Regions from separate parts of the Homo sapiens genome. Here regions 2 and 3 are each linked to region 1. Evidence: fine-mapped expression QTL. A gene starts in region 1. Each other region holds a variant in brackets. All regions are shown on one strand. Distances are between the middles of the regions.

What was found. PIP is the estimated chance that this variant, and not a neighbour inherited with it, causes the effect. A credible set is the group of variants that fine-mapping cannot tell apart.
Region 2: its variant is the best candidate, but not a certain one, in a credible set for the expression of BRI3 in whole blood (INTERVAL, PIP 0.59).
Region 3: its variant is the best candidate, but not a certain one, in a credible set for the expression of BRI3 in whole blood (TOPMed, PIP 0.80).

What each region holds. Positions count from the first base shown.
Region 1 is chr7:98,279,363-98,284,582 of GRCh38, forward strand. It overlaps BRI3 (brain protein I3), which reads left to right and starts at 2,324. Exons shown (of 3, transcript NM_015379.5): 1 at 2,324-2,575; 2 at 2,989-3,091. The coding sequence starts at 2,434. RefSeq lists an enhancer at 1,155-2,139 and silencers at 1,836-2,345, 2,476-2,815.
Region 2 is chr7:98,159,569-98,164,788 of GRCh38, forward strand. The region is part of intron 6 of LMTK2 (lemur tyrosine kinase 2); the gene reads left to right. Among named protein-coding and RNA genes, the nearest start is that of BHLHA15, 49 kb to the right of the region's middle. RefSeq lists enhancers at 3,679-4,188, 4,189-4,697. The variant T/C (reference allele first, on the strand shown) is at 2,711.
Region 3 is chr7:98,243,391-98,248,610 of GRCh38, forward strand. TECPR1 (tectonin beta-propeller repeat containing 1) reads right to left here. Exons shown (of 26, transcript NM_015395.3): 3 at 2,532-2,775; 4 at 1,495-1,677; 5 at 1,181-1,303; 6 at 77-202. The coding sequence starts at 2,756. Among named protein-coding and RNA genes, the nearest start is that of TECPR1, 6.2 kb to the right of the region's middle. The variant C/G (reference allele first, on the strand shown) is at 1,954.

The sequences.
Region 1 (5,220 bases):
CCCGGACAGCTGCCCCCAGGAACAATGGCCTCCTCACTGCCTACCAGAGCCTCTACTGGCTCCAAAGCCCTTGGCCACTCCTGGCCAGTCTCCACTCTTTTTTTTTTTTTTTTTTTTGAGATGGAATCTCACTCTGTCATCCAGGCTGGAGTGCAATGGCACGATCTTGGCTCACTGTAACCTCCGCCTCCCAGGTTCATGTGATCCTCGTGCCTCAGCCTCCAGAGTAGCTGGGATTACAGGTACCCCCCACCATGGCCAGCCAATTTTTGTATTTTTAGTAGAGACGGGGTTTCACCATGTTGGCCAGCTGGTCTCGAACTCCTGACCTCAAGTGATCCACCCACCTCACCCTCCCAAAGTGCTGGGATTACAGGCATGAGCCACCACGCCCGGCCCAGTCTTCACTCTTGATCTGGCTGTTCATCAGTGCCAGGGGCCACCCCTCAGTTCCCTAGTGTACCTGGACCACCCCTCAGTTCCTTTTTCGAGGACTGTGGGTACGATGACTAGGACAGCAGGTACAAGATCGATGGGAATGGGCTTCGAAGAGCTGGTCTTGTGATAAAGAAATATGATGGTCAGGTGGGCTTGGTGGCTCATGCCTATAATCCCAGCACCTTGTGAGGCTGAGTGAGGAGGATCACTTGAGCCCAGGAGTTTGAGACCAGCCTGGGAAACATAGCAACACCCCATCTCTACAAAATATAAAAAAAAATTAGCTGGGCACTGTGGCGTGCACCTGTAGTCCCCAGCTACTTAGGAAGCTGAGATGGGAGGATCACTTGAGCCCCGGAGGTCGACGTTGCAGTGAGCCAGGGTTGCATCACTGCACTCCAGCCTGGGCCACAGAGTGAGACTCTGTTAAAAAAAAAAAAAAAAAAGATATATATATATATATATATATATATATGTATGTGTGTGTATATATACATGTGAATGATGATCCCTTATTAAAAAATAAAAATAAGGCCGGGTGCAGGGGCTGACATCTGTAATTCCAGCACTTTGGGAGGCTGATGCAAAAGGATTGGTTGAGGCCAGCAGTTTGAGACTGGCCTGGGCACATAGCAAGATCCCATACAAAAATTTTTAAAAATTAGCTGGGCATGGTGGCGTGTGCCTGTGGTCCCCAGCTACTGAGGAGGCTGAGGTGGGAGGATGGCTTGGGCCCAGGAGGTCGAGACTGCATTGAGCAATGACTGTGTCACTCTACTGCAGCCTGGGTGACAGAGCAAGAGAGCCCCCCCAGCACCCCCTACAAATTTTTTTTTTAAAAATTAAAAAGGCGCGGTTCGAGAAGAGCTGTAGTCGTCCCAGAGCTACAGTGCAGGTGATATCAAAATGCAGGTGAGAAAACTGGAGACAGAATACAGTAACGGATACAGGTGCCCCTGAAAAGGTGCAGAGGCGCTAAGGACGCAAGCAATCCTGAACGTTCCAATCGTTCGTTTTAAAGTTGTCCTGGCCAACCCGTGAAGCCTTGTATGAGGAAATGTTTCAACGAGGGCGCCTGACGCAGTCCCCGAGGCCAGAAAACACCCAGGTTTAGATACGGGCTCTGACCCGCACCTGCCACAGCCAAATCCCTCCCCCTTCTGAGCCCGATCCCGTGTTGTCCTCCAGGGGTAAGCAAAACACCTGGCAGGGCTGCCTGAAGATTAGGGAAACTGAGGAGACGCGGCAGGTGCCCAGTATTTATAGTTTTGTCCCCAAACGGGGGAGTTATTTGTAAGCACTGGCTACTACCCCCGTCAATCACCTAATTGTCCAAAAAAAGGCAAACGGAGGGAATGCGCCGCAGCTGAGCACCGCGCAGGCCGCAGCTGAGGTGCACACCCGGGTGTGCCCTTTGTATTGCTGGAAGCGCTGGCGATCATAGGGGCAGAGGGCTGGCGTTGGGGCGGCCTGGGACCCACCCGGCCCCGCCCCCTCTCAGGCCCCGCCCTCCCCCTCCTCCACCGGTAGGGGGACCTCGGCCGGCCTGGGAGATCGGGGCGTAGGGGGAGGTGGGGGTGCATCCGCGAGCCCTAAAGGTCATGACCCTATGGGGCGTCTCTGGGTCGTCGTGGGGGATGGGCGGGGGGGGGGGTCTCCCCGCCACGGGAGGTCTAGAGAGCAGCGGCGGCGGGGCGGGGCGGAGTGCAGAGGCGCCGCCGGCGGGGCGGCTTCGGGAGGGCGCGGCCCCTTTAAGACGCCCCGCCGGCCCCGCCCCCGAGCCCCGCCTCCCGCCGCCCACGTGACCCCGGTCTTGTGACTGGGCCCGGGAGGGCGGGGGAAGCCCGCGGCTCGCGCCCGCCCCGCCCCGCCCCGCGTCTGCCTCAGAGGGGCCCGAGCCACCCGGTCCGCCGCGTCCCCGCCGCCGCCGCCGCGTCCCCCGCCGGGGCCGACCGAGCCGAGCCGGGCCGGAGCGGCGGGCGCGGCCGGGCCGCCATGGACCACAAGCCGCTGCTGCAGGAGCGGCCGCCCGCCTACAACCTGGAGGCCGGCCAGGGCGACTACGCGTGCGGCCCGCACGGCTACGGCGCCATCCCCGCCGCGCCCCCGCCGCCGCCCTACCCCTACCTCGTCACAGGTGGGCCCGTAACCAACTTTCCCCGCCGGCGGCTTCCGAGGTGGCAAGCCCGGTCGGGGGACGTGGGTCCGGAGGCGGGTGGGGCCCGCCCGGGGGTCCTTCCTGGAGCTGGAGGTCCCCGGGCTGGCTTCGGGACCCGGCGCCGCCGAGGGCCAGCCTCCCCCCCGGGGCTCTAGTCCTCGGGCCCGTCGTAACCCGGCGGGGCCGGATCCCTGCCCCAGATGAACTTTGTGTCACGAGGCGCTCGCTGTTGGCAGATTAGCGCCGAATCAGGCCCGCGGTGGCCGTCCCGAGGGTGGAAAAGACCGGGGGCTTTTTTAGCGGGGTGGAGGTTGAGGGGACAGGATGAGTAGTCCCCGTGGCGGTCCGATTTCTCCTCCCTGCACCCTAATGACCTGCTTTCCCGCCCACAGGGATACCCACCCACCATCCCAGGGTCTACAACATCCACAGCCGGACCGTCACCCGCTATCCTGCCAACTCTATCGTGGTCGTAGGAGGCTGTCCTGTCTGCAGGTGAGTGGGTCTGCAGCCTGGGGACTGGCCCTGGAAGCTCTGAGGACCCCCGCCCTAACCCCCAGGACCTCACAGCTCTGCTTGTGGGAGTGGGTCCGGCTTGACTTGGATCTTGACCAGAGCCCTTTATGGGAGGGACAGACAGGCTGCCCGAATGCGGTGTGGGAGAGTGCGGGTCCGCTCACCCTTGGCTCTGAACACATTTTGTGGGGGCAAAAGGGTGGATTCCTTTTCCTAGATCTTGGGGCATTGCACCCCAAGTGATTGGGATGTAGAAATGGTAACAACGGGACTCGTGGTCCTTTCGTCTTTGTTCTGGGACTTGCAAGGAATCAGGTGTCTGCTTTTTCCTTCACTTTCCGCAAGTTTACTCTGCAGTTGATCGTCGAAGGTGGTGGAAGGTTTCATTTTCCCGGAAGGGGCATTTGGAAGTAAGTGCACCAGCAGGACAGACCTCAGTGGGAGAAGCGACGGCCGTAAGAGCTGCTTTATCCAAAGTTGGCTTGAAACGCTCTTCCACGAGCTGGACCAGGATGGAAACCCCGTGTTTCTTTGAGGCAGGAGTTATTTTTTTCATATCCTCGCATTGGACCTGCACACGCTTTTTGGTTTTTATAGGGCCCCGAGGTGCAGCTAGAGGCTTGTTTTGTGGAGGTTTTGAGGATTCACATTTAAATAAGGATTAATTAAATATAAACCCTTGGCAGCTGGGGGTGTTCAGATTGCTTAGAAAGTAGGGGCAGAGTTGGCCGGGACAGGGTTTTCAGCTGTGTCTCGGAGGAGGAAGTTGAAGCCACTGAGATGGAATTAAGAAACCCTGGTTTGGACTTAGACTTGATTTCAAAAGTGTGTGTGTAAGGCCTAGAGTGGAGTCACGGGGAAGTGAGTGATTTCAGAGCCTTAGCAGGCAACTTCCTGGGAAGGAAGGGCAACCTAGAGGTGGGGACAAGAGGCTGGGACCTCGGGGGCAGGTTGTGGCTGCTTGCCTGCACAGGGACCCCGTGACAAACCCTAACTGGGACGTCAGTTTGACACAGTTGGTCACCACCCAGCAGAAACATTAGCCTTTGGAGTGAAGGTGGAGGGAGGGCAGGGTGGGGCGCTGGCTGCCTTCGGGACATAGTTCTCTCCCGGAGCTGCACCGGGTTGGGGGGCTGGCAGAGCTGTGTGAGTGTGAAGGCACATGGAGGGGACTCAGAACATGGAGGAGCAGAGGGTCTGCCTGCGTGTCATTGTCCATGCCCTGCCATCCCGGTGTCCAGCCTGCCGGAGGAGCCGGGTTCCGGTCCTGGTCCTGCCAGGAACAGCGGGGCTTGTTTCCCCACCTGGGACGTGGGGGTGTCTGGTGAGGTGTCTCTGAAGCTCTTAGCTCTTCTCTGCCCAAACCCCTGAACTTGGAGAGGTGAGAGACCAGCGGCAGCGAGGGATGGGCCAGATATCCCAGGGCTGGGGGGCGCCGAGGTGGTGGCGCAGTTGCTGTCGGTATGGGGGCACTGGCCCTGCCACTTCCCCTTCCCTAGGTGGGAACTGTGTCCCTGCGGAGGCCCATGGCTTCCGCTAACCTGGAGGTGCTCTCCAGTTATGCAGAACCTGGAGCGGGGTCAGACTGTGCTCTGCTGGGAAGGATCTTGGGCTCGGCCCTCAGAGGCTGTAGGGGTGTGGGGTCCTTGGTTACTTAATCACTGCTCTCTGCCTCTGGGCAGCTGCACCAGGCAGGGTGGAGGCTGGGTCCTCTCTGGACAAGGTTGGGGGGTCCTTAGTCCTTTAAGTTGGGACCAGAGCACTCTTGGATCCTGCGGCGACCCCTTGGGTTGCAGCCAGGCCCTCCCAGCACACACGTCCCTGCGCTCTGCCCGTGGTGCCTTGGATGCTGGAGAGTGGCTCTGGCTCCCCGAGGCTTTGCCTCTGCAGCTGCATTGGGCATGGGATGGGCCCCTGTGCCCTGTGGCAGCCAGAGGGCGAGCAGGGGGCTGGGTGCTCTGCTGCTGGCGTGGGTGGGGTGTGTGGTCCCTGGGCCACTCCTCTCTGCGAGGAGAGTGGAGACGGTTCCCTGAACACACAACACACACGTCTGGCCGCTGCCTGGCGTCTTGGCCCGGGAGACAGGATACCACTCACATGACCACACT
Region 2 (5,220 bases), 120 kb before region 1:
TTGGTGATGGTGATAGTGTTGACTGACACTTACATAGTGGTTTGTTACACTGCAGTCCCTGTGCTAAGCTATTTAGTTGCCTTACCACACTTAATGATAACAAACTCCAGAGTTAGGTACCAATATTTGTCCATACTTTCCATGTGATGGCCATGGTGTGGATCAAGTGTGTAGCACAGCCAGAGCCAGAGCTTGGGTCTAGATGTGCCCTCCTAAGAGCGTGAACCAGGCTTGAAACATCTTGAAACACTTTAACCCCCTGAGAGAGCCCAAGAATCGCTTTACCTAGAGTACTCCTCATCCGTCAGCATCTGAAAATAGCAAACGTATGTGACATTTATATGTTTAAAGAGTTAGATTTATTTTCTTAAAAACCTTATTTCTTAGCATGATAATATTATTTATTGGACAGTTGGAAAGATTGTTCTTTGTGCAGTTTCATGAATAATTTCAGTAGTAATTTCTATGTGAAATTTCCTCTAAACATCTTTTCCCGCATGCAGAATATTTCATCTTTTTTAAAAGCCCATTTTTAGCATGTAATTGTTATCTTCCAAAAACAGTGGTGAGCTGTTAATTGGATGAGTCAGGTTTTAATTGATTTCTTTGCATCATCTCAGTTTTCAGAACATTGAAACTTCCATGGCTGTGCATAGAAAAATAGGAGTACCCCAAAACAAATTCCCAGTTAATTCAAATAATATTTTCATCTGTTTAAATAAAGAACAGTAAGCATCGTGATTTTTTGTTTTAATTCCTAAGTGTGATTCGAGTATTTCTCTCATTGGCAGAGGTGGTTGATTAATAAACTTGATAACATTAGCTTTTGTTGGATTATGTAATAGTTACCCTCAAATATCTGTGGCTCATTGCAACAAAGTAGTTCTCACTCATCTTAGGTGTTGGCTTTGAGTCAACTGTGGCTCTCTTCTGGGCTGCATTCATCTTCACTCTAGGATCAGTGTTTTTTCGTGCCTGTAGATGCTGGAAAAGAAAAAAAGAGAAAGTGTATTCTGATGTTGTTCCTTAAAGCATTCTTCATGGCCTCTGGGTCAAGTTTGTGAGGTTGTTTAAATCTCTCATATCTTCTGATTTGGGGGAAGGAGTGTGGAGGGGGTTTGAGTCAGTTTTCTGTTGGTTACTGAGAGAGGCTCTAGTTAAAGATTTTCCTTATAATTCTGGTTGTTTTTACATTTTGATGCCCTGTTATGTAGGCATGAACATTTAAGGTTGGTATAATTTCCTACAATTTCAACCTTCTATCATTATGAAGGGGCTCTCTTTAAGGTTAAAAGCATTAATAAAGATAAAGTCTGGTTTTATTGATACTAATATAGTTAGACCAACTTTCTTTTGGTTGGAATTTGCCTGTCAAATTATATTTCTGTCAATCCTTTTCTTCTCTGGTTTACACCTCTTGTAAATAGTTTGTTGTTAAAAAATTTTTAAATCTTGCAATCGTGGTCACTTAAAATGGAATATGTAGTTCATTTACGTTTCTTGTAATTAGTGAGATATTTGTAATTTTATCTACCTATTTGGTATTCTTTTTTGTACCCGTTACAATTTTTCTTTTTTGCTTTTTTTCTGTTCTTCTTTGGGATTCTCAATTTTTTTTGTTTGTTTCAATTTTCCCCATCTACAAGTCTGGACTTGAGATATTTGTTTCTTAATTTTTTGTGTGGTCGCACTAGAAATTACAGCATGCACATTTTTTAACCTAACAAAGTCTAAAATTAATATTTTAATCCTGCCCCAAAGGAGCTGGAAACTCCTAGAGCTCTCTCTCCATGTAAGGAAAACTGGAATTAAACCTACTTTTCTGGGCCACCCCATATTCTCTGCCATTGTGGAGGATGCTTATTCATTGGGCACTTAACTGAAGTAAGGCAGCATGCTGCACCTGGAGATACCGAGACTCAGTGTGCTCGTTGTCCTCCAGGTCGCCCAGTGAGAGGTGACACAGGATCAATTATTTAGTAGAGGCATGAGAACTAAGAGGAAGGAGTTCTCGCTGGGATTTCTCAGGGTGTTATTGCTTATTATTATATAATCGGTTTTGATGATCTCGATATGATCAGAGTTATAAAATTTATGATCTTAGGTTATTGTGATATAAAAATAGCTTCCTTTTAGTCTAGCTCTGTGTGACCCATGGAAGGTGATTTTGGCACTGACACAGCATCAACAAAAAAAAGTTAGGACACAGAGATGCGCCCTCAGGTGACAAGGCAAGTCTGCTCGTCAGAGGCCCGCTATTCTGAGCTGTTTCATGTTGCCTTTTTTGGTCCCTAAGCTCCTTATATTAATTATAAATAACAGTTGAGGCATAGTCTTTGTGAGTGACCATCACAGAAATAGAGCCGGAGGCAGCATCTATTTGACAATTGCCCGTTTCCCGGCTGATGGAGGTGGCTTGGAAAACTATCTCATATATTTTAGCATTTTCCAGTTCTTCTTTGCCCTTCTGCATGCGTTCTTGAAAGTTCCAGTAGACAATGTTAGTTTTTTCATACAATGGTCAAAGACCTTGTCCACTCCGCTTCATGTTTTCTTCTGAATGGGTTCAGAAGATGGGCTTTGTTTTAATGCTATTTTAATGTATTTTTTATAGCAGCTGTCCTTTTTGGGACTAGTAATTTAACCAGTTTTATAAAGAAACACAAAAACATGGTGGAATAACTCCTTTATGTTACCATAAATGACCCAG[T/C]GTTGATCTAGAGTATTTCTGTATCTTTATCATTGTACAGACATCTTTATGAAAATATAAGAAATACATCTGTTCTTTAACTCAGCATCCTTATAATTTTTTCCCCAACAAATTTAGAGCTCAGACTTAAATACATGTTATCCAAATACTTAGACTAAGTATTCAAAGCATATTAACTTACCTAAATTTGATTGGCTCTTATACTTTGGGGTGAATATTATGCATACAGCCTTCTAGAATGAGCAGATGTGACTTCATGAAACACATTTTATGTGACCCTCCTAAGTCACTCGGGGACGGTCACTCCTGAACATCCCGAGGAGCTCTGGTCGCCATCAAAAGCTTCCACTGGCAGTGCAGAGCTAATAGCTTGTTTAATTTAAGCGTCCCACCTAATGGTACATTGATCAATAAAATTTTTTAAGCCATCATTGTTCCTCAAATAATTAAAAATACAATTACCATATGATCCAGCTAGTTCCACTTCTGGGGATATATACAAAAGAAGTGAAAGCAGGCCCTCAGGCAGATATTTGCACACGTTATTCACAGTAATGGGTTATTATCGAAACCACTATTCACAGTAGCTGGGAGGTGGAAGTGGCCAGGTGTCCATCGATGGGTGAATGGATAAACCAAATCTGCTCTCTCTGTGCAATGGAGGATTGTTAAAAGGAAGGAAATTCCAACACAGGCTACAGCATGAATGAACCTTAAGGCCATTATGGGAAGTGAAACAAGCCAGTCACAAAAAGACAAGTTCTGGGTAATTCTACTTACAGGAGGGACCTAGAGTAGTCAGATTCCTAGAGACAGAAAGTAGAAAGGTGGGTGCCAGGGGTGGGCTGGGGCTGGGAAATGGGGAGTTGTTTAATGGATGCAAAGCTTCAGTTTTGTGAGTTGAACAAGTTCTGGAGGGGGCTGGTGGTAATGGTTGTGCAGCAAGAAGAATGTACTTAACTCTGGAATTGTAAAGTTAGACGTGGTTACAATGCCAAATGGTATTTTATGCATTTTTTTTTACCCCAGTAGAAAAAAATGGATAATTACCTCCCACAATTTAAGGTGCCATGTCAGGTGCTACCTATGTTCGGAGGCTAGGATGCCCTTTGGAAATCTTTGGTTATCACTTGGCGTGGCCAGTCATATATCAGAGTCAAGGTCATAAACACAGGGTGCCACCAACTTGTCCAGCAGTGGGAGGTCACATTGTTTCCTTGGGCAATTTCGTACATATCACTTCTGGGCTCTCGTAAACTTGAAAAGGAACAGGTTTTCCAGCAGCAAGGACTAGGGGCCTGACAGGGTTCTTGGCACTGAAGTCCAGCTTCTCCGGGCTCCCACCGTGTGGCAAGAACGGTCAGGTAGCACCAGCCCAGGGAGCCAGAGAGGGCATCTACTTGAAGGGACCGAGGGTTGTCCCATGGGACACACCAAAGTGTCTCTTTGACACTGAGCCCAGCTCCCAGCCTGGATGACCCAAAACCTGCCCAGAAACAGGCCTTTCTGATCAGAGGGGCATAACCCAAGGCAGGACCTGCCCCCTGGCCGCAATACAAAGGGCACAAAGGGCACAGAGGGCAGCGGTCTGGGCTCTGTAAAAAGCTGCTGTGGCCACGGTGAAGGACCGGCTATCGCTGCCTGTCTTAGCAGGTCAAGAGCGATTGAATGAACAGTGGCCTTTTCAGTCGTCATCCTGCAGTCATCATGCCCAATGATAACATCTCCCAAGTAGAAAGGAGAAAATATTTTTGCACTTACTTAATTCCTTGTAAGATGGAATTAACCAGCCTGTTTTTAAAAGGCACTTAATCATGGAATTTTTATGAAAGTAAATGAAAACTCCTCTGAGTGCATTTTGTAGCTGGCCTGCAGCCACAGATTTGCAATGCTGACGGTGACAATGTTTATGAGAGGAGCCGAGAGATGACTGTAGGGTGTTTTATAGAACTTGTTGCCATGGCAGGTACACGCCGCTCTCACGTGAATATCAAGGCAATGAGACTTTTGATTAAGGATCACTCACTCAACAAAAATGGATTGAGCAAATTCGAAGTGCCGGGAGCTGCCTGGTGCTTTAAGGAACACAGAAGTGAATAAGCCCCGCCCCTGACTTGCCTGCTCGGATGTTCATTCTGCCACTCACTGGTTTATCACCTTGGAAAATCCCTTAACCTCTTCTGTAAAATGGCAGTAATACTGTCTCCCCTTAGAACTGCCCTGACCATTAAGTAAGATGATGGATGAGATTACCGAGCACAAGGAAAATGCTCAGTAAGTGGTGGCCATTTTTAGTTACTAAAATTGATTGATTCTAATTATTAAATAAAAGCTTGGGTAGTGCGTATAGAAGTACGGGAGTCCTAACCAGGATCACTGGGGAAGGCTTTGTAAAGGCAGTGTGGAGACAGGGGATGCTGTGCCCTGGTGGCGAGGCCAGCTGGGTCTGTTGGGAAGGCTCAAGTGGAAGGGGTAAGGACAGAGAACAAAGCACGCTGGAGACCAGGCTG
Region 3 (5,220 bases), 36 kb before region 1:
CCAGGGGGTGCACAGGACAGGACCCACAGGAGGTGGGATCGTGGGGAGCCAGGGCAGGGAGAGGGGTTGGCCTTACCTTGCCCTGCAGAGACACAGCCCACACTGACAGGCGGCCCACAGGCTCCTCCGTGATCTCCCAGCCCCCTACAGAGAGGTCGTTGAAGGGGTCGGGCAGCTCCTTGGGGTCATCCTTCGAGGGGATCTGAAGGAAGGAAGTGAGAAATGGTAGCAGTCAGCGCCCAGTGGGCACCTGGGCATGCACCCACCTCCCGCCCGCCTGCCATCCGGACTTCCATTCTTCAGCCCAGCCTGCAGCTGCCTTAATTCACAGGGAAGGCAGCATCAGGACTGTGGGGGCCCCTGCCCGGCTAATTTTTGTATTTTCAGTAGAGACGTGGTTTCACCATGTTGGCCAGGCTGTTCTCAAACTCCCGGCCTCAAGTGATCCACCTGCCTTGGCTTCTCAAGTGCTAGGATTACAGGCATGAGCCATCACACCCAGCCTCTACAAAAAATTTAAAAGTTAACCGGGCATGGTGGTGCATGCCTGTAGTCCCAGCTACTAGGGAGGCTGAGGTGGGAGGATTGCTTGAGCTCAGGAGTTCCAGGCTGCAGTGAGCTGTGACTGTACCACTGCACTCAACAGAGTGCAACAGAGCGAGACCCTATCTCTAAAAAGAAAAAAAAATAGGGCCAGCTCCCTGGTCTCCTGGCTTCTCCCAGTCCCAGGGGCAGCCCCACCTGACAGCCCTGTATGTCCCAGGGAGGCCTCCACTCATTGGAGGCCACGCCAAGACCTGGGTCCAGTGCTGTGCTCCCTAAGCTGGGAGGTTCTTCTGGGTCATGGAGCAACGCTAGAGCCAGAGGTGCCTCCCTTGGCTGAGGGGGAGGACAAAGTGCCAGATGGAGGCTCAGTCTGGGACAGAGCAGCTTGGACACCAGGGTCAGGGCAAGTTCTGTGCTGTCCTGGGCCTGGCCTGGCTCCCTGTGTGACTATCTCCCAAGTGAAGGGACACGCAGTGTCGTGGTGTTCCCGGGACAGGAAACAGCTCAAAGGCCAGGTCCCGAGGTGGGCGTGGTGTCCCCTGGTGCACACAGGTGGGGAAGGTGGAGAGGAGGCTGCATGTGACACTCTGTCCTGGCCCTATCCTGCCCCCAACCCACATTCAGGAACAGAGACCTTGGCCCAGATGTCCCGGGACTTGTATCTCCTGTACCGGATCCACTTCCGGCGCCGCACACAAGAATTCCACTTCTTGTCTTTCGTGTAGGTGGCGGGAAAGTCGATGGCGTACGTCCACCCCTGAAACACCAAGGAAGGGGCTCTCAGGCTCTGCGGGGAAGGCATTTGAAGAGCTGGGGAAGGTGGGGAGGGAGGGTGTGGCCTGAAACACCCGAGCTCAGGCACCACAGGGTGCAGGGGACAGAAGCAGGGACAGGCGGGAGGCACCCCCTCCCCACAGGGCAGTCATGGAGGGTCCCAAGTTCACCTACCCCTTTCTCAGTGGGTTCACCTCCAAAATTCTCATCCACGTACCAGTCAGACTCCCACTCCCAGTGCGGCGAGGGCAGTGCCACCCTGTCCAGCGGCCGGTGCTGGAGCCCACTCACGTCACTCCACCCCCAGCGGTCACTCAGCAGGAGCTTCTCACAGAAGCCGCCCATGGGATTCCAGCGCTGAGGGCCGGGGACACAGAGGCGGCCTTGGACCCAAGCCTGCTGGGCGGGAACCCAGGCGGGCCAGGCATCTCCAGGACCAGCTGACCCTGCCCAGCCGACCCCCTCATTGATCTCCAGAATAGGAAGTGAGCAGAGGGCCTGTGTGGGACCCAGCAACTGGGGACCCCCATGCCACTTCATCATGAGCCAGCAAGTACATCAGCACAGCCCCAAAGGGCAAAGAACCTCCTGCCAGCCACGGCGCTGTGAGCAGGGCAGGCGGTGGAGGGCACA[C/G]CTTGTCCTAGGCTCCCAGAAACCACTGGAGCCTGCCCTCGTGGGGACCTGGCCAGACTGCTTTGGTGAGGACACAATAGTGGCTTCAGCCTCAAAGACCCTGGATACTATGCAACTTGAATTTTTTTTGGAGGGGCGGGGTGCAGGGGGACAGGGTCTTGCTCTGTTGCCCAGGCTGGAGTGCAGGGCACGATTATGGCTCACTACAGCCTTGACCTCCCTGGCTCAAGTGATCCTCCTGCCTCAGCCTCCTAAGTAGCTGGGACTAAAGGTGCACACCACCACACCCTGCTAATTCTTGTATTTTTTTTGTAGAGGCAGAGATTCACCATGATGCCTAGGCTGGTCTCAAACTCCTGAGCTCAAGCGATCTGCCCGCCACAGCCTTCCAAAGTGCTGGGATTACAGGCGTGAGTCACCACGCCTGGCAGCAACACAGATTTTAAGTACAAGGAAGGAAATGAAGGCAGGAACTGGTGGGGAATCTGGGGCCTCTATTTCCCTTCTGTGGTTCATCATTTTAACCAATAACCCAGCGAACTGACCCGCTCGGCAACTCCAACCATGAGGGTCACTACCTGATTCTCATAGGCCTCCTCTCGGCGGCGGATGGGGACATCGCTGGCACACACATACACGTAGACCTGGTTGTCACAGGCAATGCCCCAGCAGCACTGCGTGGTGGCGCTGACGCGCTTGAACTCCAGCTGGGAGTCCTTGCACATTTCCCAGTACTGGCCTGCTGTGGACAGCGTGTACACTCTCCCGAAGAGGTCCACCGCCCACAGCACTGAGTTGGGCATGGCAGCGGCTGGAGGTAACCTGCGGCAGGAGGACGAGGGCCAGCGTTCAGGCTCCCAGCCCAGGGGACATCAGAGTCATGTGAAACCTGGGAGACTTCTACTGTGACTATTTATTCTTTTTCTCTTTTTTTTTTTTTTTAGATGGAGTCTCACTCTGTCACCCAGGCTGGAGTGCAGTGGCGCAATCTTGGCTCACTGCAACCTCCACCTCCAGGGTTCAAGCAATTCTCCTGCCTCAGCCTCCCAAGTAGCTGGGATTATAGGCACCTGCCACCATACCCAGCTAGTTTTTGTATTTTTAGTAGAGACGGGGTTTCGCCACATTGGCCAGGCTGGTATCGATCTCCTGACCTTGTGATCTGCCTGCCTCAGCCTCCCAAAGTGCTGGGATTACAGGCGTGAGCCACCGCGCGTGGCCAACTGCTTATTCTTTCTTTTTTTGTTTATTTTTTTGAGACGGAGTCTCGCTCTGTTGCCCAGGCTGGAGTGCAATGGCACGATCTTGGGATCTTGGCTCACTGCAACCTCCACCTCCCAGGTTTTCTCCTGCCTCAGCCTCCCCAGTAGTTGGGACTACAGGTGCACGCCACCACGCCTGGCTAATTTTTGTATTTTTAGTAGAGACATGATTTCACCATGTTGGACAGGCTGGTCTCGAACTCCTGACCTCAGGTGATCCACCTGCCTCTGCCTCCCGAAGTGTTGGGATTAGAGGCATGAGCCACCACGCCCGGTCTCTTTTTTGTTTTTGAAAGAATTTAAAAATAGATCACTTGAGGCCAGGAGTTCAAGACCAGCCTGGTCAACATGGTGAAACCTCATCTCTACTAAAAATACAAAAATTAGCCAGGCACAGTAGTGTGTGCCTGTAGTCGCAGCTACTCAGGTGGCTGAGGCAGGATAATGGCTTGAACCCGGGAGATGGAGGTTGCAGTGAGCAGACACAGTGCCACTGCACTGCAGCCTAGGTGACAGAGGGAGACCCTGTCTCAAAAAAAAAGAATTTAAAAAGTAGAGACAGGGTCTTGCTCGGTCACCCAGGCTGGAGTGCAGTGGTTTGATTACAACTCGTTGCGGCCTCGAACTCCTGGGCTCAAGTGATCCTCCTACCTCAGCCTCCTGGGACAACAACAGACATGCACCACCATACCCAGCTAATTAAAAATTTTTTTTTTGTAGAGACAGAGTCTCACTATGTTGCCCAAGCTGGTCTCAAACTCCTAGTCTCAAGCAATCCTCCCATCTCGGCCTCCCAAACTGCTAGGATTACAGCCTTGAGCCACCATGCCTGGCCAGATCTTTGTTTTCAAAAGAATCAATGAAAGCTTACAGGTTTAGTTGAATCTCGAAAGATATAACTACCCCACTACTTCCCCAGGGGTCCTTCCCCAGAGTGGGCAGGTCTCCCCGCCATGTTGGCCTCTATCTGGGCATAATGAGGGCACGTTGAGAGCCAACGTGACCATGTGAATTCAGGGACGTAGGGGTCTTTTCTTCATGCGCCCTCAGTGACTCCTTCCTCCTCTTCCCCCGGCTCTCTTCTTCTGCCATTCTCTACTCCTTTCTTTTTCTTTTCTTTTCTTTTTTATTTTTTAAGAGAGTATCTTGCTCTGTTGTCCAGACTGGAGTACAGTGGTGCAATCATAGCTCACTGCAGCCTTGAACTCCTGAACTCAAGCCATCCTCCTGCCTCAGCCTCCTGAGTGGCTGGGACTACAGGCATGTGCCACCGTACCTGGCTAATTTTTAAAATTTTTTTTGTAGAGATGGGGTCTCGCTATGTTGCCCAGGCTGGTCTTGAACTCCTGGCCTCAAGCGATCCTCCCACCTTGGCCTCCCGAAGCGCTGGGATTATAGACGTGAGCCACTGCACCCAGCCCTTTCTCTCTTCTTTCTCTGTGCTTTGTAGGCATAGCCAAGGCTATTGCTAAGCTCTGCCACTGACCACCCCTGGCCCCACCTCCAGGGCCCATAGTGCTGTTGCACCCAGGGGTGTCCTTCCTGGAGTCCTGGCTCCTGATAGGAACAGTCTTTCCACCGTGGCAGGGCCACATGGCCACACACAAGGCAGCCAAACACAGAGCTACTGGATGAAGCCACCAGGGCCATCACCTGAGAAGCTCTGCCCGACAGGGCGGCTCCTAGATCCAACCCAGGACACTGGCCCGGGGCCTGAAGAGAGGAAAGAGCCTACAGATGAAGACATGGCCAGTCTGACTTAAAAACCGGAGCAAAAGGAGACAGGCAGAGTTTATTTAGGTGCCTGGAGGCTGGGCCCAGTGCTCCCGCAGCATACCAGAGCCATGCGGGTGCTCCAGACGGCCGGGTGACTGTGACGATGGCACGAGATAGAAGCATGTCTGAAAAGAGGAGCAGCTGCCACCGGCAAAAAAAAAAAAAAAAAAAAAAAAAAAGCCAGGTGTGGTGGCTCACACCTGTAAACCCAGCACTTTGGGAGGCCAAG